Regions from separate parts of the Homo sapiens genome. Here region 2 is linked to region 1. A link means that fine-mapping ties the variant in region 1 to the expression of a gene that starts in the linked region. Tissue or cell type: whole blood. Region 1 holds a variant in brackets; the other region holds the start of a gene. All regions are shown on one strand. Distances are from middle to middle.

Region 1 (2,764 bases):
CTACAACCTCTGCCTCAGAGGTTCAAGTGATTCTCCTGCCTCATCCTCCCAAGTAGCTGGGACTACAGGCTCATACCACCACGTCTGGCTAATCTTTTGTATTTTTAGTAGAGACGGGGTTTCATCATGTTAGCCAGGATGGTCTTGATCTCCTGACCTCGTGATTCACCTGCTTCAGCCTCCCAAAGTGCTGGGATTACAGTCGTAAGCCACTGTGCCCGGCCTATTTATTTATTATCTGTATGCATTACGGATTTTTATTTTCTCCAGTGGGTTATAATTCCTTTTATAATTATATATATGTATATAAATAATGGGCTGGGCGCAGTGTCTATGAGGCAGGTGGATCACTTGAGGTCAGGGGTACGATACCAGCCTGGCCAACATGGCAAAACCTTATCTCTACTAAAAATACAAAAATTAGCCAGGCATTGTGGTGTACACCTGTAGGTCCCAGCTACTTGGGAGGCTGAGGCACGAGAATTGCTTGAACCTGGGAGGTGGAGGTTGCAGTAAGCCAAGATTGTACCACTGTACTCCAGCATGGGAGAGAGGGAGACTCTGCCTCAAAAAAATAAAAAATAATAAAAAACATTTTGTTTGGGAATAAATTCAAGACTACAGAAAAGTTACAAGAATAAGGACGGTACAAAGAGCATCCATATGTCCTTTACCAAGATCCCCCTTTTGTTAACATTTTATCCCATTTGCTTCATTTACTCCCTATGCCCATCCTGACCTCAACACACACACTCACATACACAAACATTTTTCTGAACCATTTGAGAATAAATTATACATATTGTGGCACTTTATCTCTAAATACTTCAGTGTGAATTTCCTAAGGATAGAGATACTATCTTACATAACCACAGTCCAGTTATCAACCAGTAAATTTAACATTGATACAATACTTTTATCTAATCCTCCATCTGTTTCCAATTTCATCAATTGATCCAATAACGTCTGTTTTTTTTTGTTTTTTGAGATGGAGTCTTGCTCTGTCACCCAGGCTGGAGTGTAGTTGGGAGATCTCAGCTCACTGCAACCTCCATCTCCCAGGTTCAAGCAATTCTCCTGCCTCAGCCTCCTAAGTAGCCGGGACTACAGCCCCTGCTACCACTCCTGACTAATTTTCGTATTTTCAGTAGAGACAGGGTTTCACCATGCTGGCCAGGCTGGTCTCGAACTCCTGAACTTAAGCAATGCTTGGCACGATTTCTGCTCATTGCTGCCTCAACCTCCTAGGCTCAAGTGATCCTCCCACCTCAGCCTCCTGAGTAGCTGGGACTACAGGTATGTGCCACCACATCCAGCTCATTTTTGTATTTTTAGTGGAGACAGGGTTTTGCCAAGTTGGTCAGGCTGGCCTTGAACTCCTGGGCTCAAGTGATCTGCCTGCCTTGGCCTCCCAAAGTGCTGGGATCACAGGCCTAAGCCACTGTGCCCAGCCTATTCTCCTTTAATCTGAAACGTAGCTACAGCCTTTCTTTGTCTCAGGACATTGTCTTTTTGAAGACTATAGTTCCACCCACACTCAGTTTTATTAATAGGGGGTTGTCTGATATTTCCCTATGATTAGATTCAGGTTATGCATTCCTTCCTGGAAGGTAACGTATGAGGTGTGTCCTTATCAAAGTAT[C/T]ATATCTGAGTTACACGATGTTCTTCTGCCCCTCACTGGGGATGTTAATTTTGATCTCCTGGTAAGGTATTGTTGGAATTTGCCATGTATCATACTATAGTCCATGCTATGGTTTGAATGTGTCCCCTCCCAAACTCAGGTGTTGAAACTTAATGGCCAGTGTGATAGTATTAAGAGATGGGGCCTTTAATAAGTGATTAGGTTATGAGGCGCCTTCCCTCATGAATGAGATTAAGGCCCTTATAAAAGAGGCTTCACACAGAGTGTGGTTCTCTTGGCCTTCTGCCATGTAAGGACATAGTGTTTCTCCCCCTCAGCCTTCAGAACTGTGAGAAAATAAATTTCTGTTCTTTATAAATTACCTAGTCTCAGGTATTGTGCTATAGCAGTACAAACAGACTAAGACAGAAAGAATGTTGTGTCCCCCCTCAAAGTTCATATGTTGAAATCTAACCCCCCAAGTGGGGCCTTTGGGAGATGATTAGATCATAAAGGCTCCATCCTTTTTTTTTTTCTGTTTTCTTTTTTTTTTTTTTTGAGACGGAGTCTCGCTCTGTCGCCCAGGTTGGAGTGCAGTGACGTGATCTCGGCTCACTGCAACCTCCGTCTCCCGGGTTCAAGCGATTCTCCTGCCTCAGCCTCCTGAGCTGGGATTACAGGTGTGCACCACCATGCCTGGCAAATTTTTGGATTTTTAGTAGAGATGGGGTTTCAACATGTTGGTCAGGTTGGTCTCGAACTCCTGACCTCGTGATCCGCCTGCCTCAGCCTCCCAAAGTGGTGGAATTACAGGTGTGAGCCACCACGCCTGGCAGCTCCATCCTTATAATGGAATTAGTGCCCTTGTAAAAGAGGCCCAAGGGAGCTTGTTCGCCTCTTCCACCATTTGAGGACACGGCAAGAAGATGCTATGTATGAGAAAGTGGACCCTTACATGATAATCCCCTAGTGCCTTGATCTTGGACTTCTCAGCCTCCAGAACTGTGAAAAATAAATTTCCTTTGTTTATAAGCTAAACAGTCTATGGTATTTTTGTTAGAGCAGCCCCAACAGACTAAGACACATCATTGTTGTTTTTTCCTTTGCATCAAATAAGCAATCTGTAGGGAGACATTTAAGACC
Region 2 (2,624 bases), 460 kb before region 1:
GTATGTGAACTTGAGTGCAAAGTACAAATTCCTTCACAGACTTAAGATTTTACCAGTATCACTTCCCCAGTAGCTTCAAGGATTTGCAAACCTGAAATCCACAATGTCAGGGCACCAGAAAAAGCAGAGAAACAGTATTGGGGAGTGGAAAAGCCCACCAGCCCTGCCTCAGACCACCTCCATCCACACTCAGCCCTTACTAACTATGAGATCTCAAGGCAAGTTATCCTCTCAGTACCTCAATTATGCCATCTGGAAAATGGGAATGTCAATGATAGCACTTGTAAGGTTCATGTGACAAGTAAGTAGCACATGTAATATGCTAGGTATAGCTCCCAACACAGAATAAAGACTTAGTCAACATTAACAGCTATCATTATTGTAAGTATTAAGAAATATGTTGGCTACTCATGCTATTCTTCCATGTTCTATACGGTATAAGCATGTGGGAATGTTAGAAGTTAGAGATGATAAAGAAGGAGGAGAAGGAGGTTTACAACCCTATACTCCCTCACTGCTGCAGAGATTCTTCCTGGCTCTCACACGCTGGCAAGCAGCTGGCTCTCCGTCTTGGCAGAAAATGCCCAAAAGAGGTAAAAGATAGAGACTGCACACCATCTGTGCAAACCAGGCTGCTCTTGTAGTTTTTAGACAAAATCTAAATGTAGTCAGATGTGACCTGCCCTTTTAAGATAGAATTATTCTATTTCCTCCCTCTACCCGTCCCCGTCCCCCACTCTGTCCCCCACATAAAACTCCCCCACATATCTCAAGAAACTTTCAGCATTTTGAAAGACATACTCTGGGGTCCTGTTGTGACAGCCTTGTGCCACATTAACTTCTCTGTCTTGTTCCCAGCAAAGAAGCCTTTGCTAATTTCACAACAGGAAAGCATGCAAGAAATTCGAGAACAAAACAAATCTACACGCAGAGCCCAGCATCTTCAAGCAAACACCCTGAGGTACAGACCCGAGGCTAGATGAGTCCGGACTGCAGATGAGGCAGCTGCCTCTTAAACTGCAAGGGGACTGAAAAAGTCATTTGCCTCTAAAAAAACCAACTCTGAATACAAATTGATAATGAATATTCATGAGCCCCTCCAGCTTGCTCTAGAGCCACCCTTGACTGCAACCCTGGACTCTGCTTCCTAAAAAGTTTCCCAAAGCTCTTTCTCTGCCTCCTCTCAGAAGGAAGAGGGTGGGAAAGTTCATTCAGGGCTTTTTGCCTCCAGCTTTCAAGTACTTGCTTTTTGGTCTGGGCTTTTATTTTTCCTTCTATTTTTTTTTTCTTAAGGATTCAGATCAAATCAATTTTGGTCTTACCCTTTGTATCTTCCATAAGTAGCAGCTTTTGTTTTCCTCCTCTTTCCTCGTCTTTCCCCCCCCCAGCCTCTGCTTGCTGTGGTCCGTCTCCGTGAGAGAGGTCCTCAAGGAAACAGAGATATAACAGACCCTTGGGCTCGTGGGAGGGGCTAAATTAGCCGGCCCCGTTTCGGAAGGAACCTCAAACCCTGTCTTTTTCATTGACTAGAAAGGACAGATTGACTGAGGAGTCCAGCAGCTCATTTTCCTAAAGTTACTCGAAGCCTTTTCCAGGTTGTAATTTTTTGCATCCTTGAAGCAATGTATATTCAAATCTCTCTCTCTTTCTCCCTTCTTCCCTCTCTCCCTTACTCCCTCCCTCTTCATCTCTCTCTCCCTCTCTTCGTTATAGAAATCCCTTTTTCTCCCTTGAAAAAGTCATCTCAGCTGCAAGCAAAAAAAGCTATTCCTTACTGCAATTATGAAGCTAGATAATAAGAAAGTTGTTACCTTGAAACCCGCTCGAAAAACTGAAAGTCAAGAACAGTTCTTCCCTCCCCATAAAGCCTCTGGTCCCATGACCAGCAATCCTTTCTCAAGGCTCATTAGAGCAAAGAGCAACAGGTGACCCAAGCGATGAGTTTCCTGCAGGAGACGCTGCGTTATTGGTTGGAAGGCTGGGTGGAACCACAGAGGAGCTGCTCAATGGGAACCGCTGCCTGGCTATGAATTGATGAAAGTCATCCACCATTTCCCAACTTTGACTTCCTACCTTTGAAGTCTAATGAGCATGAATTACCACATCCAGACCGTCAAGATTACCCCAATGTAGATGAGAGCCTGACCAAATTATTTTTAAACTGTGTAACAAAATTATTTTGAAATCAAAACAAGGGCTAATCCTTTGAAAGGAAGGTAAGTCCTCAAGTCCCAAGGCGACTTGGCAGCTTCTCCCTCCACAAGGCTGTTGCAAACCTTAGCATTTCAGGTCTGAAAGATACCTCAGACATTGAGTCTAAAAGAGGTTAGAGATGTGGAGAGGTTAAGCCACCTGCTCATGCTCACATACATGGTCTCTCTTATTTGCTACCATGTTCCCCAGCACCTAATACAGTTTCTCTCACAGCATGGGCTCTCAATAAATATTTGATGAATGGTTGAAAAAAATGAATGAATTGCAGCAAAGCAGAAATGTAGATCTGTTTTCCTGTTTCCTAGTTCTTGATTTTTCTACATTGCTTGTCTGGCATGTAAATTTGTATCTAAAGCCAGTTATACCATATAAATCATTAAATTTGTGAGCCCGAAGGACTGTTTTGACTC

The links. PIP is the estimated chance that this variant, and not a neighbour inherited with it, causes the effect.
Region 2: it holds the start of ENTPD1, and the variant in region 1 is fine-mapped to the expression of ENTPD1 in whole blood (INTERVAL, PIP above 0.99).

Annotation. Positions count from the first base shown.
Region 1 is chr10:95,299,370-95,302,133 of GRCh38, reverse strand. No RefSeq gene overlaps it. Among named protein-coding and RNA genes, the nearest start is that of PDLIM1, 9.7 kb to the right of the region's middle. The variant C/T (reference allele first, on the strand shown) is at 1,643.
Region 2 is chr10:95,754,954-95,757,577 of GRCh38, reverse strand. It overlaps ENTPD1 (ectonucleoside triphosphate diphosphohydrolase 1), which reads right to left and starts at 1,415. Exons shown (of 10, transcript NM_001776.6): 1 at 1,323-1,415. The coding sequence starts at 1,338. ENTPD1-AS1 (ENTPD1 antisense RNA 1) reads left to right here. Exons shown (of 6, transcript NR_038444.1): 6 at 864-2,624. RefSeq lists a silencer at 165-224 and an enhancer at 1,555-1,854.